Homo sapiens: one gene and its partners. The protein of the gene in region 1 interacts with the protein of each later gene in a pairwise test. Each region holds a gene or a part of one and is shown in the gene's direction. Other genes may lie near its edges.

Region 1 (6,549 bases):
TGTAATCCCAGCTACTTGAGAGGCTGAGGCAGGAGAATCGCTTGAACCCGGGAGGTGGAGGTTGCGGTGAGCTGACATTGCACCATTGCACTCCAGCCTGGGCAAAAAGAGCAAAACTCCGTCTCAAACAAACAAACAAAAAAAAGATATTGATCTTGTAAGTGCTCTTTCACAATTCCTTTTATGATAATGTTTTAACTAGGTTTGCAAATTAAATCCAAATTTTAATTTGGATGCGCAAATTAAAATCTCAAATTTCTCAGGTCAATTCCTTGGGGTTTTTTGTTGTTTGTTTGATTGTTTATTTTCGCTTTTGTTTGTTTGTTGAGAGGGAGCCTCGCTCTGTCGCTCAGGCTGGAGTGCAGTGGCATGATCTCAGCTCATTACAACCTCCACCTTCCATGTTCAAGTGATTCTCCCACCTCAGCTTCCCAAGTAGCTGGGACTACAGGCGCCTGCCACCACACCCGGCTAATTTTTGTTTTTTAGTAGAGATGGGGTTTCACCATGTTGGCCAGGCTGGTCTCGAACTCCTGACCTCAGGTGATCTGCCCACCCTGGCCTCCCAAAGTGCTGGGATTACAGGTGTGAGCCACCATGCCCTGCCTCTTTGTTTTAAATGACAAGGATTTCATTTCATATTTAAACTGCTGTAACACAAGGGACAAGGAAAAGTGAAAAGAATTTTGTTTCTCTAGAGAAAAAAAAAGGCTAGGCGGTACATTAAACTTGGATGGCAGCCTGTCATGGAACCTGGGGATTGGTCACATTGGCCAGTACTTTCTCTAACCCAGAGATCAAAACCTGATCTGCCACCACTGCTGGGAATGGAGTCAGTCCTGGTTTCAGCTATAGCTGACACCATCAGCTTCAATCTGAGCCAATCTACTTTCTGCCTTTCTTCTAGTAGACAGCGAGAGTTCAAGCCAGCCTAGTTCTCAACAGCATCATCTGCTAACATTTATCATCTCCCCCACTTCCCTCTCACACAATAAGGTAGGCACTGGGGAAGGTAGCACAGTCCCTGCCTTCAAAGTGCTTACAATCTTGGTGCTTACAATAAAAATGCCGATCAAGTGAATATGTCACTAGAAGGCAGCACATGAGAAATTAATATGAAGATGGCCGGACACAGTGGCTCATGCCTGTAATCTGAGCACTTTGAGAGAAGGTGGGTGGATCACCTGAGGTCAGGAGTTCAAGACCAGCCTGGTCAACATGGTGAAACCCCATCTGTACTAAAAAACAAACAAACAAAGAAAAAATATATACAAAAAATTAGCCAGGCATGGAGGCGGGCGCCTGTAATCCCAGCTACTTGGGAAGCTGAGGCAGGAGAATGGCTTGAACCTGGGAGGCGGGTTACAATGAGCCAAGATTGCGCCACTGCACTCCAGCCTGGGCGACAGAGTGGGACTGCATCTCAAAAAAGAAAGAAAGAAATATGAAGATGAATGTTTTGAGAGTCTGGGGAAAGTGAAGTTCACTATGAGCTGAGCTGGTGGAAATGGCTTCCTGAATGAAGGAAATCCATGGTGCCTTCTCCATTTTGTGGGAGGCACTGGTTTAGAGAGTGGTTAAGGACATAAACTGCAAAGCCAGGCTGCATTGTTTGAACAAGCTCAGCTCTGCCAGTAACGAGCTGTGTGACCAGGGCAGAGTACCTAGCCTCTCTGTGCCTAGGTCGCCTCCTCCCTAAAATTAGGACAATAGTAATTATGTCTCCCTCATAGACTTGTGGGGAGTATAAAATGCCTTAAGCTAAATGAAGCACATGGCATATAATGAAGGCTAATGGGGGCTTCGGACCATTGTTCTTTATGACACGGTTTCTTGAGACCGAGGCATGTACAAGCCAGTGCACAGAATCGTGTCTATGTAATTAGTTAATTCTGTCTGGGAGGAGTGTGTGTGTTTAAGACAGTGCCTGGGATGACTTATAATGTAATCTTTAGGCAAAACGCTTTGTAATTGGTGCAGCTCTGAGAACACACGCATGCATTCCAGGCGGTGCTGCTGGGGCTCGGCGGGGCCGTGTCTGGTCTGCAAGGCGCGCGGGCTCGTGGGGGGTTGGCTGGGGAGCCCACGCTGCCTGGCGACTCGGGCCACCGAATGTGAGACCGAGTCCCTTTATGTCACCAGCGCACACGCTGATTTGAACCCTGCTTCGACGTGTGTGTCATGGCTTAAAAATAGCTGCTAATCTGTCAACCTGTCTTGGGCAGAAACAGCGGCGGCGACAGCAGCAGGAGCGTCATGGCCGTGGCGCTGTCTGCGCCGGCGATCCGCCTTTCGGACTGAGGCCCAGCGCAGCGCTTGCAAAGAGGTAGAGGGGCTGCGGCGGGCCTTCGCCTTTTCAGCTGGCTCTCCACGCTGGGGAGAGGCGCCCAGCTAGGGGCGACGGGGGAGGGAGGGGACCGGGAAGCGGGCACCCGAGCCCAGCGAGCCAGCCTCTCTCTCCCGGGCGCCCTCCCTCCGCGCGCGGGGCCCGGCTGCCAGGCTGGCGAGGACTGGGGCGACAGCCATGGACCTGTTACAAAGGCGACCGCAGGCGGAGGGAGGGAGCGGCGGGCCAGGGCCCCTGGAGCCGACGGATGGGATTGGAGAATGCCCAGGGCTGTATCCCTGGACAGAAAGGGGCTTCTGCATCCCCCGGGAAAAACAGCCCCACGGAGATCCTTCTTAGACCTGGGCTCCTTCACGCTTCCCCCATCCCATTCATCATCTCGTAGACAGCAGACTCTCTAAGAGGAAAGGTTGTATTGCAATACAGTAATGGGGTCTTTAGGCCTGGGTGCAAAGGTAGAAGAAGATGATGGTGATAGTGATGGTGGTGATGGTGGTAGTGATGATGGTGATGGTGGTGGTGATGATGGCTGTAGTGCTATATTTCTGTGCTCCTTCCGGACCCAGCCATTGAAAACTCTCTCTCCCTAAACTCCCTAACATCCAATCTTCCCTCACCAATCCTGGTCCTAAAACCCCTGCTTCTAATGCCTTGTAAGTGCTTGGTTTCTCTTGGCACTGGAGCAAGGGAGAGCTGGGCCCTGTCTAGGGGTGTGAGATGGGGACAGAGCATGGGCAGGGACAAAGATGGCCTCTCACTGCTGGTCATAGAGTTGAAGTCCCCCTGGCAGGAGGCCAGGAAGGGAGTGGAAGGGGATTCTGCAGGCTCCAGGACCTCCTGCTTTCAAACAGGCAGGACCACAGGTGTGAGAGGATGGGGAGGGAGGGGGAAGGGGCCTTGCCATTGTTGCCTCCCTGCCTGAAGGTCCCAGGGCAAGCCTCAAACGCTGGTCCTTCCCAGCTCTGCAGCTCAACAGGTAATCTGAGACACACCTGCTAAGCCCCTCGTTATTGACCTCGTGTTTTGTAGGGTCACTTGACTCCAACAGCCATACGGTTGGTAATTCTAAGCCTCTGAGCCCCTGGACCTGGCAGGATCCCTCATTTTTCCCTTTCCTTCCTGCTTTCTAGGCCCCCACCACCCACCCCTGTCCCCCCTCCCCTCAAGACACACACAGACAAAACACTCCAACCCTGCGTCAATTCCCCCACCATCCACCTCTGTCACCCTCCCCTCAAGACACACACAGACAAAACACTCCAACCCTGCTTAGATTCAGAAATTCTCACATTAGAGCTGAGATCTGATCAGTAATTTCCTAATGCTGATCCAAGGAGGGTGGTTTGCCTGTTGTGCACATAGATTGGTGCCTTCTTCCATAAGCTCATGCATTCAGCAAGTATTTATTTTTTGCAAACTTACTCTTCCTCTTTATTGCTATTCTCCACTCACCCCATCCCACCCCCACCACACCCTTCCCATAGCAGGTTTATCTCTGAGGCAGTGGCAGGTCACGAAGGGGTTAAAGTCTAACTCTGGCACAGAGATGGCAGGCCTGACATGTGTCATGGCCTCAGCTGCTGTTGTCTCCCTGCTAATTCTCTTTGGATGGGTCTAAAGGTACCCCCAACCCCATCCCAGCTCCCTAGGCTCTCTGCCGATAGCCCCAGGCAGATGAGACTCAGATTCCAGCTGGCAAGATCCCCAGCAGTGGGGACAACCACCCAAGTGCCGTGTGTGTGTGTGTGTGTGTGTGTGTGTATGCGTGCTGGCAGTGGGGGTGGGGTGATGAAGCTGAAACCTAGCAGCTGGGCAGCTCCCTCTCCCCGTAAACAAGGACATGTGACTCTCCCACCTCGTTTCGTGGCAGAGCCAAAGAGCTGAGCAAAAGGAGCTGCTGCAGCTTGAAGAAAAAGCCACCCCTGAAGGCTCCTGCCAGAGCCAGGCTTACCTTCTCTCCCTCGAGAATCTTCTCCCGAAGGACCAGCCCAGGGAAGGGAAGCAGCTGCTCTGGACTCACTCAAGTGTGTCTCACACCCCTTCCTCTTCCAGCAGCAGCTACCTGGCAACTGAACCCATCATCACCACAGCCACTCCTGCAGCTGCCACGGTTTCTGCCACCTCTAAGATGTGCCCTGGTAACTGGCTTTGGGCTTCTATGACTTTTATGGCCCGCTTCTCCCGGAGTAGCTCAAGGTCTCCTGTTCGAACTCGAGGGACCCTGGAGGAGATGCCAACCGTTCAACATCCTTTCCTCAATGTCTTCGAGTTGGAGCGGCTCCTCTACACAGGCAAGACAGCCTGTAACCATGCCGACGAGGTCTGGCCAGGCCTCTATCTCGGAGACCAGTATGTATCGGGCAGACTGGGCCCACGGTAGAGCGTGTGTGTGTTTGTGTGTGTAAGAAAGGAGAAGGGTGGCAGACAGGTATGCAGTGGTGTCATTGGTTCCTGGTTGAAGATTGAGGGGATAGGGCACATGGGCCAAGAGTAGAGGCTGCAGGTTTGGGAGAGTTTGGCCAGGATTATTGAAATGCCCAACTCTGGCCAGTCACAGTGTCTCTTGCCTGTGATCCCAGCAGTTTGAAAGGCTGAGGCAGGAGTATCTAGAGTACAGGAGTTCTAGACCAGCCTGAGCAACAAAACCAGACCCCATCTCTACTTATTATTTTAAAATAAAATAAATAAAATAAAAATACCCAAGTCTGGACAGAAAGACTCTGTTCCAGTAATAATATCATTCATGTATCACATATTTATTATTACATGCCAGTGCTACATACCAGGCACAATAGATGACTTCTCTGACCTTCCATCTATTGTGCAATGTCTCTGGGAAAAGGCAGCCACTGGAAGCCAGGAGCAGTAGGTAGGAAGCTGCAGTGGTTTCTCTTGAGACCAAGCAAAGCGGCAGTGCCTACAGAGATTCTGCAATTTGAAGGCTATGGAGAGAAAAACATCAAAGGAAGAGCCATCCCCACTTCTCTCCCTCAAAGTTATACAAGGATTTCTTTTGCTTCTTTGGTTTGTTTTGGTTTTGGTTTCTTTCTTTTATTTTTTTTTGGAGACAGTATCACTCTGTCACCCAGGCTGGAGTGCAGTGGCGCGATCTTGGTTCTCTGCAACCTCCACCTCCCGGGTTCAAGCGATTCTCCTGCCTCAGCCTCCAGAGTAGCTGGGACTACAGGCACACACCGCCTTGCCCGGCTAATTATTTTTTTGTATTTTAGTAGAGACGGGGTTTCACCGTGTTGCCCAGGCTGGTCTTGAGCTCCTGAGCTCAGGCAGTCCACCTGTCTCGGCCTCTCAAAGTGCTAGGATTATAGGTGTGAGCCACCGTGCCCAGCATTGTTGTTGTTTTTGAGACAGGGTCTCACTGTTGCCCAGGCTGGAGTGCAGTAGCCCAATCTCAGCTCACAGCAAACTCCGCCTCCCGGGTTCAAGCAATTCTCCTGCCTCTGCCTCCCAAGTAGCTGGGCTTACAGACGCCCATCACCACACACAGCTGATTTTTGTATTTTTAGTAGAGACGGCGTCTAGCCATGTTGGCCAGGCTGATTTTGAACTCCTGGCCTCAAGTGATCCACCTGCTTCAGCCTCCCAAAGTGCTGGGATTACAAGCATGAGCCACCGTGCCTGGCCTACAAGGATTTTTTTCACACACATTATCTCTCTTAATCTTCACAACAGCCCTGTGAGATAGGTATCACTCTCCCTGGGTTACAGATGAGGAGACTGAAGCTCAGAGAAGTTGTGCCTGGCCAAGGTCACACGGGTTGTAAGTAGCAGAGCCCGGGCTTGGAGGCTCAAGTTCAGTGCTCTTTCTGCTTAAGGAGTTTGCACTGGACAGGGCAACTCAGTTTGCCCTGAGATATGACTGTGGTGCCCAGGGGTGTCTGCCACCAAGCTGAGGGGTCTGGGCCGGATGAACACCTGAAGGTGACGTCATAAAACAGGGTAAATGTGGCCGGGCATGGTGGCTCACATCTGTAATCCCAGCACTTTGGGATACTTAGGCGGATGGATCACGAGGTCAGGAGTTCAAGACCAGCCTGGCCAAGATAGTGAAACCCCGTCTCTACTAAAAATACAAATATTAGCCTGGCATGGTGGTGGGCACCTGTAATCCCAGCTACTCGGGAGGCTGAGGCAGAGAATTGCTTGAACCCGGGAGGCAGAGGTGGCAGTGAGCCGAGATCGCG
Region 2 (5,536 bases), on another chromosome or scaffold:
CGAGACCAGCCTGGCCAACATGGTGAAACTTCGTTTCTACTAGAAAAAATACAAAAGTTAGCTGGGCGTGGTGGTATGTGCCTGTAAACCCAGCTACTCGGGAGGTTGAGGCAGGAGAATCGCTTGAACCCGGGAGGCGGAGTGGAGGTTGCAGTGAGCCGAGATCAGGCCACTGCACTCCAGCCTGGCAACAGAACAAGACTCCATCAAAAAAAAAAAAAGTTAATGTAATTTAGTTACGTTTCATATATAGTGTATAATATAATATATTCACATTGGCTCAAAATTCTAAAAAGAGTATTAATGAATGAAAAATCTCCCCAACTCTTTCACTTTGGAAAAGAGTTGGGCATTATTTTGTATAGCTAGAGATATTCATATTCTAGACTTCGTCTTAGGTATCTTAGAGAAACTCATACATGTGTACACTTATAAAAGTGTTCATAATAACGCTGTTCTTAATAGCCCCAAACTGGAAACAACCCATTGGCATTAGAATTAAAGTATGAGGCCAGGCGTGGTGGCTCACGCCTGTAATCCCAGCACTTTGGGAGGCTGAGGCAGGCTGATCACTTGAGGTCAGGAATTCAAGACCAGCCTGACCAATGTGGTGAAACCCCATCTCTACTAAAAATACAAAAATTAGCTGGGTGTCATGGTGGGCACCTGTAATCCCAGCTGCTTGGGAGGCTGAGGCACGAGAGTCACTGGAACTTGGGAGGCAGAGGTTGCAGTGAGCTGAGGTCATGCCACTGTACTCCAGCCTGGGTGACAGAGCAATACCCTGTCTCAAAAAAAAAAAAAAAAAAAAAAAAAAGAATTAAAATATGAGATGTTTATAATGAAAAACAGACCATGTCCAGTGATTTAAAAAAATTAACCTGGCTGGCCCAGTGGCTCACACCTGTGATCCCAGCAGTTTGGGAGGCAGAGATGGAAGGATTGCTTGATCCCAGGAGTTTGAGACCAGCCTGAGCAACATAAGGAGACCCCCGTCTCTACAAAAAAATACAAAAATAAAAAAGGCTGGGATTGATGGTACACATTTTTGTCCCAGCTACACAGGAGGCTGAGTTGGGAGGATCACTTGAGTCCAGGAGGGCGAGGCTGCAGTGAACCGTGATCACCATCACTGTACTCCAGCCTGGGTGACAGAGTGAGACCCTATCTCAAAAAATAAAGGCCGGGCACAGTGGCTCATGTCTGTAATCCCAGCACTTGGGAGGCTGAGGAGGGTGGATCATGAGGACGAGATCGAGACCATCCTGGCCAACATGATGAAACCCCATCTCTACTGAAAATACAAAAATTAGCTAGGCGTGGTAGTGCGCGCCTGTAATCCCAGCTACTTGGGAGGCTGAGGCAGGAGAATCACTTGAACCCAGCGGGGTGGAGTTTGCAGTGAGCCGAGATCGCACCACTGCCCTCCAGCGTGGGTGACAAGAGCGAGACTTGGTCTCAAAACAAGCAAACAAACAAAAGAATCTTACAATGTTGTGAAAAAAAAAAAAAATCCAGGCACAAAAGAGTATACATTTTGTGTGCTTCCAGTTTTAATCTGGCTCTGAAACAGGCAAAATGGAATTATATTATCTAGGAACATGTAAGTGGTAAACTACAAAGAACAAGAAAGAAATTATCACAAAAGTCAGGGTAGTGGTTACTCCTTGAGGGGAGGGAGAACATATGGTTGGGAAGGAACTCTTGAGTGCTAGCATTGTTGGATTGTGGTTTTTTTTTTTTTTTCCCACAAAAAAATGTAAGCCAGAAGTTTTCTTACCTTTCTACCTTCTAGCCTCCAGTTCCGTTCCTTGGAGGCAGCCAGTCATATGGGTCTATATGCCTTAACACATACACACACGTGCGTGCACACACACAGACACACACGCTATATATATATATATATATATATATATATATATATATATTTTTTTTTTTCTTTTTTTTTTTTTTTTTTTAATAGAGTCTCACTATGTTGCCCAGACTGGTCACAAACTCCTGAGGTTAAGCAGTCCTCCTGCCTCAGCCTCCCAAAGTGCTGGGATTACAGGCATGAGTCACCATGCCCAGCATACACACACATATTTTTAACACAACTAGTAGAAAAGATAGACTTTTGAAGTAAAATGAAAAAGAAACAACCCATAAAGATATCATCTAAGATCAGGCATGGTGCCACTCACCTGAAATCCCAGTGCTTTGGGAAGCTAAGGCAGGAGGATCGCTTGAGGTTAGATATTTGAGACCAGCCTGGGCAACGTAGCTAGACACCGTCTCTACCAAAGAAATATATATATATATTTTTTGAGATGGAGTTTTGCTCTTATTGCCCAGGCTGGAGTGCAATGGCGCAATCTCGGCTCACCACAACCTCCGCCTGCTGGGTTCAAGCGATTCTTCTGCCTCAGCCTCCCCAGTAGCTGGGATTATAGGCATGTGCCACCACACCCAGCTAATTTTTGTATTTTTAGTAGTGCTGGGTTTATCCACGTTGATCAGGCTGGTCTCGAACTCCCAATCTCAGGTGATCCACCTGCCTTGGTAAAGAATTTTTTTTTTTAATTAAAAAGTAAGCTGGGGGCTGGGCGCAGTGGCTCATGCCTGTAATCCCAGCACTTTGGAAGGCCGAGGCGGGCGGATCACAAGGTCAGGAGATCGAGACCATCCTGGCTAACATGGTGAAACCTCGTCTCTACTAAAAATACAAAAAAATTAGCTGGGCGTAGTGGCAGGCACCTGTAATCCCAGCTACTCGGGAGGCTGAGTCAGGAGAATGGCGTGAACCCGGGAGGCAGAGCTTGAAGTGAGCCGAGATCATGCCACTGCACTCCAGCCTGGGCAACAGAGCAAGACTCCGTCTCAAAAGAAAAAAAAAAAAAGTAAGCTGGGCATGGTGATGCACAGCTATAGTCCTAGCTACTTGGAAGGCTGAGGTGGGAGGATTGCTTGAGCCCAGGAGTTTAGAGGCTGCAGTGAGCTGTGATCATGTCACTGCACTCTAGCCTGGGTGACAGAGCAAGACCCTGTCACTTGAAAATAAAAAATATCAGCTATGATTTCTGCCCACTTATTTTTCACTGGACAAGTGGTTACTATGTATGTGCCCTTAGGCCCATGTGCCACTCACTTAATCTGGCACTTGCTGTGTGTCAGCATGGTGTCAGGCACTTTAGTTTGCTTAGTTCAGTCTTCTAACAACCCAGGAAGGCAGGTACTGTTATTATCCCCATTTTACAGAGAAGGAAGCTGAGGCTGTTGTGCTTCTGGGCTTCCTACGCAGCACACCAATAGTGTTGAAACGCTACCAAGGGTTGTGTTGAGGGTGGTCATCTTGATGCCTATTCCTGGGCTGCTCTAACAGGCCCCTTTATCTCTCCAGGTGGCCCTATGCACCCAGGTAGCCCTGGGCATGGAGCACCTGTCCAACAACCGCTTTGTGCATAAGGACTTGGCTGCGCGTAACTGCCTGGTCAGTGCCCAGAGACAAGTGAAGGTGTCTGCCCTGGGCCTCAGCAAGGATGTGTACAACAGGTAGAAGGGCATGCGTGGGGTGGGGGCTCCCCATTTTTTCCCAGAGGGTGAGGGGCAGAGGACAGATAGTTTGGGGGGTGTGGGAAAGGGTTTAGTGCCTGCTTAGTCCAAAGCTGGAGGGCCTGGGATAGGGAAGAGCTTTCTCATCCTTTTTCCAAGGGTGCAGCAGGCTTCCCACCCAGTGCACACCCTTGGTGGTTGTAAAATGTCTCTAGCGATTAAATAAATAAATAAACCTTTTTTAAAAAATAGGCAAATTTGATAAGGATTTATATATAATCTATTTATATGGCTCTCTCTGTAACTTCCTGAATTCAGTCATTATTATTTTGAAGTCTGAGACTTATGCCTCAGCACCCATGCCAGAGCTTGCTCTAGACAGCCTACGAGGGCTCTGCAGCGCTGCCGGGAACATCACCCTGAGTCCCTCTGGTTCCAGGTCACCCCCATTTGTCTGACTATAGCTGTAGTGAGGATTGGTTTATCACTAATAAAGCTCTTTCCATTTAACAGTTCTTAGTTTTTACATTTTTACAACCAATATAGAAAGTATGTATGACTATTAACTTTTCTGTTAACATTTAGGCAAAGTTTGATTCTTAATGGAAATTTTTTAACCATCAAACCTCTCGTGTGGTTACCTCCAGATTTTGTCTAGTGTACTCCCATGCTCAGCACGCATGTGACCAATTTCTTGATGTCTGTATGTAGAAAGGCTGGGCCCCCGGCTTGGGGATGCGTTCCAGATGGGGAGATGAGGGTGCAGCGCCAGGCCACGCTCCCACCCCACCTCACCCCTGGGTTGCTTCTCTCCTGCAGTGAGTACTACCACTTCCGCCAGGCCTGGGTGCCGCTGCGCTGGATGTCCCCCGAGGCCATCCTGGAGGGTGACTTCTCTACCAAGTCTGATGTCTGGGCCTTCGGTGTGCTGATGTGGGAAGTGTTTACACATGGAGAGATGCCCCATGGTGGGCAGGCAGATGATGAAGTACTGGCAGGTAGGCAGCCTTGCTGCTAGGGGATGATTCCAGATGGGCCCCAGATGGGGCCTACTCAGGGCCCCAGGGCTGGTTCAGCCTACCTCCCTCTCAGGGCTGCTACTGAGCAGGCACACAGATACAACCACTCTGGTTGTTAAAATACTGCAATACTTTGTTTTTCTTTTGAGACGGAGTGTCGCCCTGTCGCCCAGACTGGAGTGCAGTGGCCCGATCTCCGTTCACTGCAACTTCTGCCTCCTGGGTTCAAGCGATTCTCCTGCCTTAGACTCCCTAGTAGCTGGGATTACAGGCACGCACCTCCACTCCCTGGCTAATTTTTGTATTTTTAGTAGAGATGGGGGGGCTTCACCATGTTGGTCAGGCTGGTCTCAAACTCCTGACCTTGTGATCCACCCGCCTCGGCCTCCCAAAGTGCTGGGATTGCAGGCGTGAGCCACCACACCTGGCCGAAAATACTGCAATACTTCTATATTGGTTGGTAAATAGCCTTTGCCCCCAGTGCCCACTCCAGCCACTCTGACGCCTGTCCGCCAGCCCACTTCAGCTCCTATGCATGGACCCCGTCCTACCAGCCAGAGTGAGTGGGGCCAGGGGAGTCATCTTTTTCCGTTGCGGGTACCCACCTGCCGCTGGCCAGCATTGCCCCAGAGGCATCCTTGGGTGGCTGCTTGTATAAACTGCAAGGTCCACAAAGTGTTGAACAAGTTGTTGAATGTTTTGGCCAACACTGCACCTGCTGTCTTCCCTACAGATTTGCAGGCTGGGAAGGCTAGACTTCCTCAGCCCGAGGGCTGCCCTTCCAAACTCTATCGGCTGATGCAGCGCTGCTGGGCCCTCAGCCCCAAGGACCGGCCCTCCTTCAGTGAGATTGCCAGCGCCCTGGGAGACAGCACCGTGGACAGCAAGCCGTGAGGAGGGAGCCCGCTCAGGATGGCCTGGGCAGGGGAGGACATCTCTAGAGGGAAGCTCACAGCATGATGGGCAAGATCCCTGTCCTCCTGGGC
Region 3 (6,085 bases), on another chromosome or scaffold:
TCAGAGATGTCAGCGATGCAGAAATAGCTTTGGAGTTGGAGACAGAGCACACTGGGCCCAGGGTACAGGGCAGGGTGCGATGGCTGTGGTGGGCTGTCCTTCTGAGACCTGGCCCTGCTTGGATCATATTGGCCTGTCTGCTCTTCCCACCAGGTACCGCCTGATGCTGCAATGCTGGAAGCAGGAGCCGGACAAAAGGCCGGTGTTTGCGGACATCAGCAAAGACCTGGAGAAGATGATGGTTAAGAGGAGAGTGAGTGCCTGGGTCCAATTCCCACAAGCTGAAAGTGGCTTGGGGAGACTCCAGCCTCACCCCAGGGCAGTAGTTTTAGCCCTCAGAGTTCCCAGTGTGGGGCCACAGTGGGATTGTGCAGAGAGAGAGAGTCATGCTCTCCCCTGCATGCAGACAGCAGATTGAACCCTTCTCAGGCCAGGCCGCTTGGGCTTCTTTTCAAGTCATGAAGAAACCAAGATTCTTGACATTTAGGAAAAGCTCTCTACAGACAGGCATGGGAGGAAAATATTCCAAAGCCAAAAAGAAATAGTTTTCCATAATGGAAAATGAGAAAGTTGAGTTAAAGCAAGTGCCCAAAATTCAGATGCCCAGAGGGGGGTCCGGCTGGAGGAGGGCAGTGAGTAAGGAGCAGTGGAGACTGTGGCAAACAGCCAGCCCCCTCCAAAGGGTTCCTTGCTGGAGTACCTGTGGCCTGCAGAAAAAGGAGCCAGGAATGGGCTGGGTCTTCTGAATTTTATGAGGTTTATGTTGTCTCCCAGTTTTTATTGTTAACAATTCATTTAAATTTCCCAGAGCCGAACGCAGGCCAAACAAAGCATATCGGGGGGTGGCCAGAGTCAGCCTGTGTGCCTGGAAGTACAGTTTGTGAGGTCTACACATTTTCAACCAATATTCATCAGGCAGCTGCTAGGACCCATACTATGTCTCAGAGGCTGGGAATGCAGATAAACAAGACCAGCACAGCCCTGCCCTCACGGGGTTTACACACAGGCCTTGTCTTAACATTGGCACATTTACTGAGTTGTCACTTCTTCCGACTTGGATAGCGGGATGCAGGACCTAGGACCCCATAGGAAAACTTCACATCACTGTCTCGCTTGGATGAAAACTTCAAGTCCTGAGAATGCAGCGTTGTTCAAAACAGAAGCGATCACTGGTGCTGGCCTTCCTAGAACAGTGCTGAGAAACAGCCGGGAAAACGCTGGGCCCCTCTGTGCACATTCAAGCTGGGCATTGAAAGGAGCAGACGCCAGTGGCCCCTCGTGCTGGGGAGCCCGTGCCTGTAGCAGGGTCCTGTGCACCCTGACAGCGCTGTCAGATTTCAGAACTCAGCCCTGACGTGACGTTCTAGATGGCAGGGGTCCTTGGGGAAAGCTGGAAAACATCCTGCAGGCTGGGGCTGCGTCCTGGCATGTGGCTGCAGTGGGCTCCCCCAGAGCCCAAGGGTTTGTCAGCGGGCTGGTTCCGTGCTGCCCATCTCCGGGTTGGGCCAGGGGCAGCTAGATGAGGCGTCCCCCAAGGCTGCCCTCCAGGCCCTGGAGATAAGACGCTGAGGGAGCACATTTCTTTCCCCAGGGAGGTGACTTTCCAGGGGAAGAGACAGAATAGACAACACCCAGGGGAGTGATGGGGACCTCAGAGCAGGACCAGGCCAGCCAGGAGTCCTGGGAGCTCTATGCAGCCTGGCCCTGGTCTCTTGGAGAGGTCAGGAGATTGGTGCGAGGTGGAGACACAGCCAGAGCCTCTGCCCTGAGGATGGCTTGTTGTATACTGAGTTGTATCTAGTTGTGGCACATGGCTTGGAGTGACCGGCCATCTCTGTCTTCCAGGACTACTTGGACCTTGCGGCGTCCACTCCATCTGACTCCCTGATTTATGACGACGGCCTCTCAGAGGAGGAGACACCGCTGGTGGACTGTAATAATGCCCCCCTCCCTCGAGCCCTCCCTTCCACATGGATTGAAAACAAACTCTATGGTAGAATTTCCCATGCATTTACTAGATTCTAGCACCGCTGTCCCCTTTGCACTATCCTTCCTCTCTGTGATGCTTTTTAAAAATGTTTCTGGTCTGAACAAAACCAAAGTCTGCTCTGAACCTTTTTATTTGTAAATGTCTGACTTTGCATCCAGTTTACATTTAGGCATTATTGCAACTATGTTTTTCTAAAAGGATGTGAAAATAAGTGTAATTACCACATTGCCCAGCAACTTAGGATGGTAGAGGAAAAAACAGATCAGGGCGGAACTCTCAGGGGAGACCAAGAACAGGTTGAATAAGGCGCTTCTGGGGTGGGAATCAAGTCATAGTACTTCTACTTTAACTAAGTGGATAAATATACAAATCTGGGGAGGTATTCAGTTGAGAAAGGAGCCACCAGCACCACTCAGCCTGCACTGGGAGCACAGCCAGGTTCCCCCAGACCCCTCCTGGGCAGGCAGGTGCCTCTCAGAGGCCACCCGGCACTGGCGAGCAGCCACTGGCCAAGCCTCAGCCCCAGTCCCAGCCACATGTCCTCCATCAGGGGTAGCGAGGTTGCAGGAGCTGGCTGGCCCTGGGAGGACGCACCCCCACTGCTGTTTTCACATCCTTTCCCTTACCCACCTTCAGGACGGTTGTCACTTATGAAGTCAGTGCTAAAGCTGGAGCAGTTGCTTTTTGAAAGAACATGGTCTGTGGTGCTGTGGTCTTACAATGGACAGTAAATATGGTTCTTGCCAAAACTCCTTCTTTTGTCTTTGATTAAATACTAGAAATTTTTTCTGTTTCCTAACTTCATCATTGATTGTTTGAAATCTTGGAGTTTCAAGCATTTTTTTCAAGCTGAGACGGTTCCTTTTGCATGCCTCCTGACTCACTGACTCCTCACTGGCTTTGTGTCTAGTGCCACACTCCATTTGTGCTGACGATGCTATGAGGCTGGCCCGTGTGCACCCTCGATTTGGAAGGTCCTCTTCTCCGTTGTAGGCTCAGACAACAGACGAGTGCCTCCTTTACGTTAGAGAATGTTTTATAGAACGTTTCCGCTGCAGTAAGCCATTGAGTGCAGCAGTGTGCTGTTGCCCTACACTGCCTTAGAAAAAGAGTTAAGCAGTTCGACAAATATACATCAGATTAGAGAGTCTCAAGTTCATAAAAGTCAAAATTGGTAGTGTCTGTTAAGTTACATTTACCAAGAGAGCACATGATATTTCCCCTAACTATAACAGTGTTTTTGGAAACCTGGAACACAAAACCATTAATATAATTGGCACAGAAACCACGAGTTTGGTTTGAACATCAAAGGGAGTTTTGCCAAGGCCTTACTGTCTGCACTTGAAGTTTTGGTTCTTCAGTGCAGAACAAATGATCTGTTTTCATTTTTAGGCATGTCAGACCCGAACTGGCCTGGAGAGAGTCCTGTACCACTCACGAGAGCTGATGGCACTAACACTGGGTTTCCAAGATATCCAAATGATAGTGTATATGCTAACTGGATGCTTTCACCCTCAGCGGCAAAATTAATGGACACGTTTGATAGTTAACATTTCTTTGTGAAAGGTAATGGACTCACAAGGGGAAGAAACATGCTGAGAATGGAAAGTCTACCGGCCCTTTCTTTGTGAACGTCACATTGGCCGAGCCGTGTTCAGTTCCCAGGTGGCAGACTCGTTTTTGGTAGTTTGTTTTAACTTCCAAGGTGGTTTTACTTCTGATAGCCGGTGATTTTCCCTCCTAGCAGACATGCCACACCGGGTAAGAGCTCTGAGTCTTAGTGGTTAAGCATTCCTTTCTCTTCAGTGCCCAGCAGCACCCAGTGTTGGTCTGTGTCCATCAGTGACCACCAACATTCTGTGTTCACATGTGTGGGTCCAACACTTACTACCTGGTGTATGAAATTGGACCTGAACTGTTGGATTTTTCTAGTTGCCGCCAAACAAGGCAAAAAAATTTAAACATGAAGCACACACACAAAAAAGGCAGTAGGAAAAATGCTGGCCCTGATGACCTGTCCTTATTCAGAATGAGAGACTGCGGGGGGGGCCTGGGGGTAGTGTCAATGCCCCTCCAGGGCTGGAGGGGAAGAGGGGCCCCGAGGATGGGCCTGGGCTCAGCATTCGAGATCTTGAGAATGATTTTTTTTAAATCATGCAACCTTTCCTTAGGAAGACATTTGGTTTTCATCATGATTAAGATGATTCCTAGATTTAGCACAATGGAGAGATTCCATGCCATCTTTACTATGTGGATGGTGGTATCAGGGAAGAGGGCTCACAAGACACATTTGTCCCCCGGGCCCACCACATCATCCTCACGTGTTCGGTACTGAGCAGCCACTACCCCTGATGAGAACAGTATGAAGAAAGGGGGCTGTTGGAGTCCCAGAATTGCTGACAGCAGAGGCTTTGCTGCTGTGAATCCCACCTGCCACCAGCCTGCAGCACACCCCACAGCCAAGTAGAGGCGAAAGCAGTGGCTCATCCTACCTGTTAGGAGCAGGTAGGGCTTGTACTCACTTTAATTTGAATCTTATCAACTTACTCATAAAGGGACAGGCTAGCTAGCTGTGTTAGAAGTAGCAATGACAATGACCAAGGACTGCTACACCTCTGATTACAATTCTGATGTGAAAAAGATGGTGTTTGGCTCTTATAGAGCCTGTGTGAAAGGCCCATGGATCAGCTCTTCCTGTGTTTGTAATTTAATGCTGCTACAAGATGTTTCTGTTTCTTAGATTCTGACCATGACTCATAAGCTTCTTGTCATTCTTCATTGCTTGTTTGTGGTCACAGATGCACAACACTCCTCCAGTCTTGTGGGGGCAGCTTTTGGGAAGTCTCAGCAGCTCTTCTGGCTGTGTTGTCAGCACTGTAACTTCGCAGAAAAGAGTCGGATTACCAAAACACTGCCTGCTCTTCAGACTTAAAGCACTGATAGGACTTAAAATAGTCTCATTCAAATACTGTATTTTATATAGGCATTTCACAAAAACAGCAAAATTGTGGCATTTTGTGAGGCCAAGGCTTGGATGCGTGTGTAATAGAGCCTTGTGGTGTGTGCGCACACACCCAGAGGGAGAGTTTGAAAAATGCTTATTGGACACGTAACCTGGCTCTAATTTGGGCTGTTTTTCAGATACACTGTGATAAGTTCTTTTACAAATATCTATAGACATGGTAAACTTTTGGTTTTCAGATATGCTTAATGATAGTCTTACTAAATGCAGAAATAAGAATAAACTTTCTCAAATTATTAAAAATGCCTACACAGTAAGTGTGAATTGCTGCAACAGGTTTGTTCTCAGGAGGGTAAGAACTCCAGGTCTAAACAGCTGACCCAGTGATGGGGAATTTATCCTTGACCAATTTATCCTTGACCAATAACCTAATTGTCTATTCCTGAGTTATAAAAGTCCCCATCCTTATTAGCTCTACTGGAATTTTCATACACGTAAATGCAGAAGTTACTAAGTATTAAGTATTACTGAGTATTAAGTAGTAATCTGTCAGTTATTAAAATTTGTAAAATCTATTTATGAAAGGTCATTAAACCAGATCATGTTCCTTTTTTTGTAATCAAGGTGACTAAGAAAATCAGTTGTGTAAATAAAATCATGTATCATAAAATGTGTAAACTTTTTTTCTTTTTAACATTCTAGTTGGAAACAACAGATTTCTGATTTTGTAGTTTCCATACAATATTTAAAACATCACAAAGAATTCTATCATGATAACCACTGAGGCATCAATAGTGGTCGAGGACTAGGGGCTCTGGAGATATCGCTGGCTTATCTGGTACATTTGCGTGTGAATAGGCACATTGATAGAAACTGAAAAACTCAGCTAACTCCACTGTTCAAGGAATCCCTTCCTTAAAAGTGTCCATCCCTAGAACAAAGCAGCAGCCAGTGTCAAGTTTAGGTCTTCACAGTTCTCTAGCAATTTGCTTGTTGCTGATCTTTTGAAGTTGGCCTTAGAGCTGTGGGAGACAGAATACAAAATGCCAAGTCCTGAGGAAGGCCATTAGAAGTGTGAGGGAAAATGCTGTCCTGAACCACCATGAAGCCTGACATACTCACTACTTCTGTTT
Region 4 (6,085 bases), on another chromosome or scaffold:
TACCGCTTCCCGTGCCGCGTCAACCGCACCGGTGAGCCGCGGGTCCCGAGTGGGCCACGACCTGGGCCGGCCGTGCCCTGGGGCGCAGCGCCCACAGCCGTGTAGCGCGAAGCTAGGGCTCTGCTGCCCTGGGGCTCGGTCTCCGCATCAGTAGAGTGGGCCGGCTGGGTATGCCCACCAGCCTGCCTCCTCCCCACCCACCACTGCGCCTTGGCGGTCCGCGTTGCCCACACCGGGGTCAGAGTTTTGTCTCTTGGGGTTCTCTCCCACTTCCTGGGTCCACATTAGAGCAGAAGGTTGGATGTGGCTGCCAGGGCCGGCTGGGCCTGGGACCTCCCGGTCACAGCCGGTGGACTTGGCACCTTTCCTGCGCTCTTTGATCTCCGAGTTCTGTCTGTCCCCTCCTCTGTGCACCATACACTCCTGGGGGAGTCCTTTTTCAAGTGTCAAGATCCGTCTCAGCTTTACGTGGGTCCCCACTCCCACAGGGTGTGCCTTTGAACCAGAACTCAAAAAGGCATGATGGAATGGTCTTTAATGGTGGAATTTCAGGCATGGCCAATGGGAGAAGTATTTTCTTTGCTTCTGGGGATAGAGGGGGCTTCTCTGTGCCATTGAAAAGGCAGGCTGCATTTGCGGGCCGGCATCTGTGTCTGTGGGGGGTGTTGGGGAGCTCTGGGAGCCCAGGAGTCATGAGGGAATGTGCTCCCCTGGCTGTGGCAGAATGGCTCTCTTCTCTTCCCTGATGTGTTGGGACAGGCCCCTGTGTGTGTCACTGGCTCAAAAATCTGGGGAACGTGGGCCTGGAGCATGGTGGGGGCAGAAGCAACCAGGCACCTGGGGAGGCCTTCCCCTAGACCCTGGGTACATCCCCCCACTACTCTGTAGGGCGCCTGATGGACATCTTGCGCTGCCGTGGCAAGAGGGGCTATGAGGCCTTCCTGGAAGCCCTGGAGTTCTACTACCCCGAACACTTCACGCTGCTCACGGGCCAGGAACCCGCCCAGCGCTGCTCCATGATCCTCGGTGAGTGGATCTGCGGTGGATGCTGGCACCTCGGACTCCAGTGCACAGGCTCCTTTCCCCATCCCTGTTAGGGAGGCGCTCCCACTATGCCTGTTGAACAGTAAGGGAAACTGAGGCATGGAGAGGCTGAAGGGGCTTGCCCAGGGCCCCACGGTAGGCTGAGGGTGGGGCTGGGTGCTAGTGCCGTTATTCCAAGTTCAGAGCCACATGCTTAAGATGGCTCTTTCTTCGTGATACTGTTTTCAGACATATGTCTGACATACACAGATGTATAGTTTTTTATGTAAAAAAATACAGAGGCTCCAGGTGACTTTGAATTTTTTTTTTTTTGAGACAGTGTCTTGCTCTGTCACCAGGCTGGAGTGCAGTGGCGCGATCTCAGCTCACTGCAACCTCCGCCTCCCAGGTTCAAGCGATTCTCCTGCCTCAGCCTCCCGAGTAGCTGGGATTACAGGCATGGGCCACCACGCCCTGCTAATTTTTGTATTTTTATTTTTAATAGAGATGGGGTTTCATCATGTTGGCCAGGATGGTCTTGATTTCCTGACCTTGTGATCCGCCTGCCTCGGCCTCCCAGAGTGCTGGGATTACAGGCGTGAGCCACTGCGCCTAGCTGAATTTTTTTATATAAAAAACACAAACACATACACACACGCACACACGCCTACGTGTGTATTTTGCTTTTTCTTAGAACAACTGATTTTAGTGATTCTTTCACCTCTGTTACATACACTTGTTTTAAGTGACTGCATACTGTTCATTAGTGAAGTTAGGACATAATTCATTTAACCCATTTCCAGTTGATGGATACCTAGGTTTCCAGTTTTGTATTATTACAACGATACGGGAACATCCTTGTATGTGCGTCTTTGTGCAAATGTGTCTCAGGCGAAGAGGTTCTGAGAAGAATTTCTCAAAGAGTCTGTGTATTTTAACTGTTAAATCAACATACCTCCTACCAGGAATGTGTAAGGGCCCATTTGAATCCTGGGGATCATGTTTAAACGTTTTTACCATTCTGATATGTAAAAAATAATGTTATTGTTTTAAGTTTATATTTCATTGAGTGATACAGTTCACAGGTTACTAGTTATTAAACCTTGGGTAAATAACTGCTCTGTGCTTCAGTTTTTCTGTCTTTAAGATGGGTACAATAATAGTACCTACCTTACAGTGTTGTCATAAAGATTAAGATATATCTAGCACAAAGAATGAAGTTAACAAATATTAGTAGCTACTGTAATTATTGTTGATAGGTTGGTGCATATTTTCCTGTATTTATTAACTATTTTTATTTTGGGACTTGCCTATTGATAGTTTTTGTCCATATTTTTATTTGGTTGTTGATCTTATTGATTTGTAGGAGCTCTTTATATATTACGGCTCTGAGTTCTTGTTATATTTTCTCCCACTCTGTTGCTTATTAACTTTGTTACATCTTTCATTTTTCAAAGGTTTAAACATTTTTATATGGATTTGTCCATCTTTTTTCTCTTATAACTCCTGGATTTTGTGTGTTGTTTAGGAAGACCTCCCCTGCTCCCAATTCTACAAATATATTCCAGAATTTCCCTCTAGTGTTTTTATGGTTTGAGTTTTTTGACACAGTATGTTATCTCCTGGATTTTACTTGCCTGAGCTGCCTATTCTGTCCCCTGTTCTGTCCTGGCAGATGAGGAGGGGCCTGAGGGCCTGACCCAATTCTTGATGACAGAGGTGCGACGGCTGCGGGAAGCTCGCAAGAGCCAGCTGCAGCGGGAGCAGCAACTGCAGGCCCGGGGCCGGGTGCTCGAGGAGGAGCGGGCAGGGCTGGAGCAGCGGCTGCGGGACCAGCAGCAGGCTCAGGAGCGCTGTCAACGGCTGCGGGAGGACTGGGAGGCGGGCAGCCTGGAGCTGCTGCGGCTCAAGGATGAGAACTACATGATCGCCATGCGCCTGGCACAGCTCAGTGAGGAGAAGAACTCGGCTGTACTTCGCAGCCGTGACCTGCAGCTGGCGGTAGGCCCTGGGGAGATGGGTCGGGGAGGCAAGGGAAGGGGCAGCTTTTGCAATGTAGTAGCCAGCCAGCCTGTGTCCCAGAGCCACCATTGCTGGCTCTTTGACGTGGATAAGTCCTTTTAGTGCTCGGTGTACCTACTTCATTGGGTTATGACTGTGGTTCTCAATGGGGGGTGATTCTGACCCCCTAGAAACATCTGGCCATGTCTAGGAAATATTTCTGGTTGTCACAATTAGTGGGGATTTATTGGCATCTGGTGTGTAGAGGCCAGGGATGCTGTCAAACGCCCTGCAGGGCACAGGACAGTCCCCAGCAAAGAATTACCTAGCCTAAAACATCGGTAGGGCCGGGGCCAAGAAACACTGGGTTATGAGGATTTGATAAGTTGTTTTTTTTTTTTTTTTTTTTGAGATGGAGTCTCACCCTTGTTGCCCAGGCTGGAGTGCAGTGGTGTGATCTCGGCTCCTTGCAGCCTCTGCCTCCCGGGTTCCAGCGATTCTCCTGCCTCAGCTTCCCGGGTAGCTGGGATTACAGGCTCGTGCCACCACACCCAGCTAATTTTTGTATTTTTAGTAGAGATGGGGTTTCACCATGTTGACCCGGCTGGTCTCGAACTCCTGACCTCAGGTGATCTGCCCGCCTCGGCCTCCCAAAGTGCTGGGATTACAGGCGTGAGCCACCGTACCTGGCCCGGTGAGTTTAAGACACAGTTTCAAACATGTACAGTCCCTAGCACACTGCTCACAACTTGTGTCATCAGTAGCCATTGTTGATATTATTATCAAGAGACACATAGGTTAAACATCATGTCTTCTAATCCTCACCAAAGCACCATACGCCAAGCCCTCATTTGCAAATACAGACTCTGAGACTCAGATTAGTGAAAGGACTTGCTCAAGGTCACAGAGCCAGGAAGCGGCACAGCCTGGATTTGAACCGGGTCCGGCTGGCTCCAGTGCCAGCCCCCTTCCCACGCTGCTGTTCCGCCTACTCCCTGTGTGGGGAAGTCTCACCTGACTCCCTCCAGCAGCAAGTGAGGCTGTGCCTCCTACTGCATCTCACTTTCTTGGTTTCTGACTGGGACTCAGCAGGGGGATAATACCAGTATTTGACTGCCACAGGGCGTTGTTCCAAGGATTTAATGAGCTGATCCACGTCAAGGGCTTAGCAGTGCAGGCCGCACGGCACGCAGGAGGCTCTCTCCAGCCATGTTGCTCGAGGCTGCACAGTGGGTTCTGACCGTGGAGTTTGAAGCCTCCCTACCCCAGGAGCCTTGGGCCGTGGCTACAGCATTGCAGGTGGCTGTGAGGCTGTAGATGTGGGTGCACTGGTGTGCCAGTCCTCGGTTTGTGCACGCCAGGTGGGTCGATATCTTGGGGAGGTGAGCCCTGATGGGGGTGTTGAGGCCACCAGTTGAAGGGTCCAGGCTGCTGGTCCTGCTTGAGGATGTAGGTGGCTGGTTTGAGGTTGTGAGATGACCTTGAGGCTATCGTTCGAGGGCCTGGTTGGTGTGTGGCAGGAGACGGAGGCTTTCTGAGGAGTGATGGGCAGGGACAGGGACATGTCCCAGGCCTGCTCTACTGTGAAAAACCATGTGGCATGGGGAAGGCTTTCCTTTCTGTGCCTCAGTTTCCTCATCCTCATCACAGATAAGGATGATGTAACAATTATAAAACGGCCTTGTGCTTTATAGATACCATCCTCAGTGCTTGCCATGCACAGACCCCTTTAATTTTCCAGCCACCCTACGCTGGGGTGGACAACACTATCTTCCCCATTTCTAGAGGAGGAAACTGAGGCACAGAGAAGTTGGTTAGAGCACTTTCCCAATGTCCTGGGATTGAAGGAATTTTTTTTTTTTTTTTTTTGAGATGGAGTCTTGCTTTGTTACCCAGGCTTGAGTGCAGTGGTGAGATCTTTGCTCACTGCAACCTCTGCCTCCCACGTTCAAGCGATTCTCCTGCCTCAGCCTCCTGAGTAGCTGGGATTACAGGTGTGTGCCACCATGCCTGGCTAATTTTTTTTTTGTATTTTTAGTAGAGATGGGGTTTCACCATGTTAGCCAGGCTGGTGTCAAACTCCTGACCTCAGGCGATCTGCCCGCCTCAGCCTCCCAAAGTGCTGGATTACAGGCATGAGCCACTGTGTTCAGCCGGATTGAAGGATTTCTGAGTTGGCTCTCAGCACTGCTGAGGGGCGGTGGCTGGCAGGTAGGAGTGCTCCCCTTTCTTTACCCAGAGGGCTTCCCCTTTTTTCTGAAACAGACATGGGGCTTGCTGTAGGGTTTTCTCAGAAGAAATAATTTACTGCTTAGAGAGGACGGCGTGAGGGCTGCAGGCTGGGGGTACTGGGAGGGGCTGCAGCCCTCACGGCTTGTCCCACCTTTGGGTTGGGTGTGATGCGATTGGGAGATGTCCTGCGTGTGTGGCCATCTGGGGGCTGCTGGGACAGGGGAGGGGGATGGAAAAGAGATGGTCGGAGGTGCCTCTGTAGTCTGCAGGTCATCTGCCTCTACGCAGAGTGGCTGCTTTTTCCTATTTTAGGGACCTAAGAAGTGAAATTGGCCAGGCGCAGTGGCTCATGCCTGTAATCCCAGCACTTTGGGAGGCTGAGGCGGGTGGATCATGAGGTCAGAAGATTGAGACCATCCCGGCTAACGTGGTGAAACCCCGTCTGTACTAAAAATACAAAAAATTAGCCGGGCGTGGTGGCATGCACCTGTGGTCTCAGGGACTCGGGAGGCTGAGGCAGGAGAATTGCTTGAACCCGGGAGGTGGAGGTTGCAGTGAGTCAAGATTGAGCCACTGCACTCCAGCTTGGGCGACACAGCGAGACTCTGTCTCAAAAAACAACAACAAAAAAAGAAGTGAAATTAAACTTAGCTACTATAAATTTACCTTAATTTATAATTTATGTTTGGAGCTTTTCTGCTCCAAAATTAACAAAGGTGTTGCAGATGGATCTGAACAGAGCACCTGATCGTGCCTGGCTTGGCGGCTTGCATCCCCACCTCCCATAGGCAGGTGTGTGGCGGCTGGGATTTAATACCCTGTTTTATAA
Region 5 (6,085 bases), on another chromosome or scaffold:
AACAAGTGGAAGGGCTTTTGGCTGAGAACAATGCCTTGAGGACTAGCCTGGCTGCCCTGGAGCAGGTAAAGAACACCTGGGGGCCCTTGCTGATCCCTCTCCAGTTCCCCCATCTCCATCTGCTTCTGGTCCACATCAGGGTAGGGTGGTCTGGACCCCATGCTGTTCTCCTGTCTTTGTTTCTGTTGCTCCTTTCTGTTGGCGTCCAGCCCTCTTCTCTCTGGCCATCCATCCCTACTTTTTTTTTTTTTTAACTTTTAAAAATTTTATTGGGGAGGCTGAGGCAGGAGAATTGCTTGAACCAGGACCCAGGAGGCAGAGGTTTCAGTGAGCCGAGATCGCACCACTGTACTCCAGCCTGGGCGACAGAGCAATACTCTGTCTCAAAAAAAAAAAAAAAAAAAAAAGGGCGTGGTGGCTCATGCCTGTAATCCTAGCACTTTGGGAGGCCAAAGATGTGTGGATGGCCTGAGCTCAGTTCAAGACCAGCCTGGGCAACACGGTGAAACCCCATCTCTACTAAAATACAAAAAATTAGCTGGGTGTGGCGGTGTGTGCCTGTAATCCCAGCTACTCGGGAGGCTGAGACAGGAGAATCTCTTGAACCCAGGAGGCGGAGGTTGCAGTAAGCCGAGATCGTGCCATTGCACTCCAGCCTGGGCAACAGAGCGAGACTCCGTCTAAAAAAAAAAAAAAAAAAAAAGCCGGGCATGGTGGCTCAATTCTGTAATCCTAGCACTTTGGGAGGCCGAGGAGGGCGGATCACCTGAGGTCAGGAGTTCGAGACCAGCCTGACCAACATAGAGAAACCCCGTCTCTACTAAAAATACAAAATTAGCTGGGTGTGGTGGTGGGCACCTGTAATCCAAGCTACTCGGGAGGCTGAGGTGGGAGAATTGCTTGAGCCCAGGAGGTGGAGTGTGCGGTGAGCCGAGATCGTGCCATTGCACTCAAGCCTGGGCAACAAGAGTGAAACTCTGTCTCAAAAAAACAAAAAACAAAACGAAAAAAAACTTATTGGCCGGGCATGATGGCTCACACCTGTAATCCCAGCACTTTGGGAGGCAGAGGTGGGCGGATCACCTGACATCAGGAGTTTGAGACCAGCCTAGCCAACATGGCAAAACCTTGTCTCTACTAAAAATACAAAAATTAGGCCAGGCGCAGTGGCTCACGCCTATAATCCCAGCACTTTGGAAGGCTGAGACGGGCGGATCACCTGGGGTTCGGAGTTCGAGACCAGCCTGGCCAATATGGTGAAACCCCGTCTCTACTAAAAATACAAAAAAAAATAGCTGGGCATGGTGGCGCACACCTGTAATCCCAGCTACTCGGGAGGCTGAGGCAGGAGAATTGCTTGAACCTGGGAGGTGGAGGTTATAGTGAGCCGAGATTGTGCCACTGCACCCCAGCCTGGGTGACAGAGTGAGACTCCATCTCAAAAAAGAGAAAACAAAATTATTTTGTAGAGACAGGGTCTCACTATGTTACCCAGACTGGCTTAAACTTCTGGCCTCAAGCTATCTTCCCACCTCGGCCTTCCAAAGTGCTGGGATTATAGGTGTGAGCCACTGTGCTTGGCCTATCTCTGCTTTTTTTTTTTTTTGTAGACGGAGTTTCGGTCTTGTTGTCCAGGCTGGAGTGCTATGGCACGATCTCGGCTCACTGCAACCTCCGCCTCCCAGGTTCAAGCGATTCTCCTGCCTCAGCCCTCCCAAATAGCTGGGACTACAGCCGTGTGCCACCATGCCCAGCTAATTTTTGTATTTTTAGTAGAGACGGGGTTTCACCATCTTGGCCAGGCTGGTCTCGAACTCCTGACCTCATGATCCACCCGCCTCGGCCTCCCAGAGTGCTGGGATTACAGGCATGAGCCACCGCGCCCGGCTTCTGCTTTTCTTTGTTTCTAGTTTCTCTCTAGTAAAGTGCATGAAATGTACTAATCTTAAGTGTACACTCAGTGAATCCTCTCTTCGTCTCTCTCTTTTTTTTCTCTCTCTCTCCCCGCCACCATAGCCACCACCCAGATCAAAGTATAAAGCACTTTTAGTACCCCAGAAGGTCCCCTTTACCCCTTCAAAGTCAGTACTCCCCCAGAAGTAACCATTATTCTGATCTCTAGCAACATAAGATTCATTTCGCTTGTTCTTTAACTTCATATAAATGGAATCAGCTGCTCTTTGTCTCTGACTTCTTTCTGGCAGCACTATGTAAGTTTATCCACGTGGCAGCACAGATCTGTTCTCTTACTGTTGTGTGGTATTCCATTGTATGAACATACCACATTTACCCATTCTCTTCATTGTTTTTCTGTTTGAAATTTCCTCTCTCTTCCTGGTTCTCTTCCCACCTCCCTCCCTGTTTCCCTGGAACTAGGGGGCTCATACCCTGTCCCTGGCCCCTGGGGTCCCTTTCACTCTACTTCTCATCACCACTACTTTCTCCAGATCCAAACAGCAAAGACCCAAGAACTGAATATGCTCCGGGAACAGACCACTGGGCTGGCAGCTGAGTTGCAGCAGCAGCAGGCTGAGTACGAGGACCTTATGGGACAGAAAGATGACCTCAACTCCCAGCTCCAGGTAACACCTTTGGCTCTGGCCTGTCTCTTCCTAGTTCCCTAGTAATGGCCCAGTGAAGTCCCCAGTAAGGTGGAGTGGGAAGACTGGAGTCAGGAGGACCTAGGTTCCAGTCTGGCTCCCTAACTTATTAGCACCTGTGTGTTCTGGGACAAGTCATTTCACTTCTCTGAAACTGAGCCTCTTCAGTTAGTTAGGATATCAATTCTTTTTCATTTTTTAAATTTTAATTTAATTTAATTTTTTTTTGAGATGGAGTCTTGCTCTGTCACCTAGTCTGGAGTGCAGTGGCGTGATCTCGGCTCACTGCAAGCTCCGCCTCCCGTGTTCTCGCCATTCTCCTGCCTCAGCCTCCCGAGTAGCTGGGACTATAGGCGCCTGCCACCATGCCCAGCTAATTTTTTGTATTTTTAGTAGAGACGGGGTTTCACCGTGTTAACCAGGATGGTTTCGATCTCCTGACCTCGTGATCTGCCCGCCTCGGCCTCCCGAAGTGCTGGTATTACAGGCGTGAGCCACCACGCCCGGCTCCTTTTTTTTTTTTTTTTTTTTTTTTGAGATGGAGTCTCACTCTGTTGCCCAGGCTGGAGTGCAGTAGCGCGATCTCAGCTCACTGCAACCTCCGCCTCCTGGGTTCAAGCGATTCTCCTGCCTCAGCCTCCGGAGTAGCTGGGATTACAGGCGCCTGGCACCACGCCCAGCTAATTTTGTATTTTTAGTAGAGACGGGGTTTTACCATGTTGGTCAGGCTTCTCAAACTCCTGACCTCAGGAGATCTACCCGGCTCAGCCTCCCAAGCAATATCCATTCTGATTCCATAATAGAAACCAGAATAATAGTAGATTAAATAAGATACAAATTTAGTTCCCTCTCATTAAAAGTCCAGGTAGGTTATTCAGGGATGGAATGATGGCTTTCCAGTCATCTGTGACCCAGGTTCTTTCTCCATTGCTGTTCCTCCACCTTCAACACAAGACTTTTATCTTGGCATCCAAGACGGTTGCTGAAACTCCCCGACCATCATGTTTGTATTCTATCTGGAAGGAAGGAGGAAAGGGGCAGGGAAGAGTGTGCCCCTTTCCTTTAAGAGCATAACCTAAATTACACTCACCACTTCCACATACAGAAATAAATCACATGGCCACACCTAACCATAAGGGAGGAGGGGAAACATCTGCTAGACAGCTGTATGCCCGATGATAAATTTTATTGCTAGGGAAGTAAGGAAGAATGAATACTGGGGAGCAACTAGCAGTCTCTGCTATATTTCCTATCCAGAAATTGAGATCACAATACCAACTTTACCAGGGAGAAGGGAGATGGTCTACCAGATGGTCCTGGGTGACTAGCACCTACTGGATGCTCTTTATCAAACTCTTTCCCTTTGGTGTCTGCATTAGGAGTCATTACGGGCCAATAGTCGACTGCTGGAACAACTTCAAGAAATAGGGCAGGAGAAGGAGCAGTTGACCCAGGAATTACAGGAGGCTCGGAAGGTAGGGGAACATGAGGGTTGAAGGGAGAGGATGGGGGGTAGGAATTGGCTCAGTCCATGGGGATGGGAGGAGGTGATATAACCAAACATGTGGGGATAGGAGGGAAAGGAAAATTGACTGGTTTCTGGTTGACCAGTTTCTTGGCCAAATCCATGAGAGTGGGAGGGGAAAGAAAGAAAGTGACCAGTTCTATAAGGATGGGTGAGTGCCTTAGCCAGTTCAGTGGGGATGGGAGGGAGTGGAGTTTGGCTAGTTCCTTGGGCATGGGAAGAGGGTTGGAGGCCTTTTTTCGATGTTGTGGAAGGAAGTTGACTGCCATCGTCCTGGCCCCCAGAGTGCGGAGAAGCGGAAGGCCATGCTGGATGAGCTAGCAATGGAAACGCTGCAAGAGAAGTCCCAGCACAAGGAAGAGCTGGGAGCAGTTCGTCTACGGCATGAGAAGGAGGTGCTGGGGGTGCGTGCCCGCTATGAGCGTGAGCTCCGAGAGCTGCATGAAGACAAGAAGCGTCAGGAGGAGGAGCTCCGTGGGCAGATCCGGGAGGAGAAGGTGGGTGGGTAGATGATGATGCCCTTCTTCCTCTAAAACCTGGGAACCACAGCGTTGCTGATAGGCCAGTGGGTGGCATGCATCAGGTGCCCGCTCCTCTGCCTTCCTGGCCCATGACAGTCTGCCCCATCCCAGGCCCGGACACGGGAGCTGGAGACTCTCCAGCAGACAGTGGAAGAACTTCAAGCTCAGGTACATTCCATGGATGGAGCCAAGGGCTGGTTTGAACGGCGCTTGAAGGAAGCCGAGGTGAGTTGGTGATGCCTGGTGAGGAACAGAGGCTGATTGGGGCCCTCATGTCAAACCACAGAAGCAGGAGTGGTCAGGCCCTGGAACTTCCCGAGATTTTCTGGACTTAGGGATATCCCCACAGTCCCCTGGCTCAATAGCAGCCCTCTGGAGTGGATCAGGGGATGGCCATCAGATAGGACAGACTGTCACGTGTTAAGGCTGCCCTGCCTTTGTGCAAATTTGGAAAGGCACCTCTTTCTCCTGAAACTGTACTTCTGTCAGGAAATTAATGCAATACACTGATGTTATTGAACAAGAACCTGCTGGGTGCGGTGGCTCACGCCTGTAATCTCAGCACTTTGGAAGGCCGAGGTGGGCGGATCACTTGAGGTCAGGAGTTCAAGACCAGCCTGGCCAACATGGTGAAACCCTGTCTCTACTAAAAATACAAAAATTAGCCGGGCATGGTGGCTGGCGCCTGTAATTCCAGCTACTCAGGAGGCTGAGGCAGAAGAATCACTTGAACCCAGGAGGCAGAGGTCGCAGTGAGCTGATATCGTGTACTGTACTCCAGCCTGGGTGACGGAGTGAGACTCTGTCTCGGAAAAAGAACCTTTGTTGCCATTTTCTGGAAATCTCATAATACACTGAAAGGCATTGTCATGTAGCAGTGAAGAGCACAGGCTGGAGCCAGTTGTTTGTCTAGGTTTGAATCCTGGCTGGGCCATTTCCTAGCTGTGTGACCTTGGGCAAGTTATCTGACCTCTCTGTGGCCTGTTTTCATCAATGGTAAAAAGGGGGTAACAATAATATCTACCATCTAGGTATTACGGGAGGATTATAGAAAATGAGTTAATATATGTAAAACCCTTAGAACATTCTTGGCATGTAGTAAGCGCTATGTTTTGTTAAATAAAATAAAATGTAAATGCAAATCTAAGTCAACCATGCGAATGGTGCAACTTTAGATGTGACACTTCAGCATATTGCCTAAGGGCGTGTGGGGTTCCCTGCAGGAGGGTCATTTCTGCATACCTCTGGGCCCCCATTGCAGTCCCTCATACCCCTAACTGGGCATGATACCTTCTGGGGGGCTGTGGCCAGACCTGGGACTTGTCTTGTAGGAATCCCTGCAGCAGCAGCAGCAGGAACAAGAGGAAGCCCTCAAGCAGTGTCGGGAGCAGCACGCTGCCGAGCTGAAGGTGCCTCTCGCATGATGGTGTTCCTCTCTC

Evidence for each region.
Region 2: the proteins of DUSP26 (region 1) and PTK7 interact in a two-hybrid assay, tested with the Homo sapiens proteins (one study listed by BioGRID and IntAct).
Region 3: the proteins of DUSP26 (region 1) and RET interact in a two-hybrid assay, tested with the Homo sapiens proteins (one study listed by BioGRID and IntAct).
Region 4: the proteins of DUSP26 (region 1) and CARD10 interact in binary tests that used the Homo sapiens proteins (3 or more experiments, as listed by UniProt).
Region 5: the proteins of DUSP26 (region 1) and GRIPAP1 interact in binary tests that used the Homo sapiens proteins (3 or more experiments, as listed by UniProt).

Annotation. Positions count from the first base shown.
Region 1 is NC_000008.11:33,595,442-33,601,990, reverse strand, and holds the start of DUSP26 (dual specificity protein phosphatase 26), read left to right. Parts: upstream 1-1,967; 5' UTR 1,968-2,326; intron 2,327-4,231; exon of another isoform or gene 4,232-4,399; 5' UTR 4,400-4,475; coding exon 4,476-4,696; intron 4,697-6,549. UniProt on the Homo sapiens protein: Inactivates MAPK1 and MAPK3 which leads to dephosphorylation of heat shock factor protein 4 and a reduction in its DNA-binding activity. Inhibits MAP kinase p38 by dephosphorylating it and inhibits p38-mediated apoptosis in anaplastic thyroid cancer cells.
Region 2 is NC_000006.12:43,155,438-43,160,973, forward strand, and holds part of PTK7 (inactive tyrosine-protein kinase 7 isoform a precursor), read left to right. Parts: intron 1-3,379; coding exon 3,380-3,531; intron 3,532-4,350; coding exon 4,351-4,529; intron 4,530-5,283; coding exon 5,284-5,444; 3' UTR 5,445-5,536. UniProt on the Homo sapiens protein: Inactive tyrosine kinase involved in Wnt signaling pathway. Component of both the non-canonical (also known as the Wnt/planar cell polarity signaling) and the canonical Wnt signaling pathway.
Region 3 is NC_000010.11:43,124,730-43,130,814, forward strand, and holds the end of RET (proto-oncogene tyrosine-protein kinase receptor Ret isoform a precursor), read left to right. Parts: intron 1-153; coding exon 154-253; intron 254-1,845; coding exon 1,846-1,993; coding exon of another isoform or gene 1,994-2,025; exon of another isoform or gene 2,026-3,382; coding exon 3,383-3,540; 3' UTR 3,541-4,788; coding exon of another isoform or gene 4,789-4,922; 3' UTR 4,923-5,622; downstream 5,623-6,085. UniProt on the Homo sapiens protein: Receptor tyrosine-protein kinase involved in numerous cellular mechanisms including cell proliferation, neuronal navigation, cell migration, and cell differentiation in response to glia cell line-derived growth family factors (GDNF, NRTN, ARTN, PSPN and GDF15).
Region 4 is NC_000022.11:37,512,912-37,518,996, reverse strand, and holds part of CARD10 (caspase recruitment domain-containing protein 10), read left to right. Parts: coding exon 1-31; intron 32-888; coding exon 889-1,026; intron 1,027-2,698; coding exon 2,699-3,024; intron 3,025-6,085. UniProt on the Homo sapiens protein: Scaffold protein that plays an important role in mediating the activation of NF-kappa-B via BCL10 or EGFR.
Region 5 is NC_000023.11:48,981,765-48,987,849, reverse strand, and holds part of GRIPAP1 (GRIP1-associated protein 1), read left to right. Parts: coding exon 1-65; intron 66-2,447; coding exon 2,448-2,582; intron 2,583-3,979; coding exon 3,980-4,075; intron 4,076-4,409; coding exon 4,410-4,622; intron 4,623-4,757; coding exon 4,758-4,871; intron 4,872-5,977; coding exon 5,978-6,055; intron 6,056-6,085. UniProt on the Homo sapiens protein: Regulates the endosomal recycling back to the neuronal plasma membrane, possibly by connecting early and late recycling endosomal domains and promoting segregation of recycling endosomes from early endosomal membranes.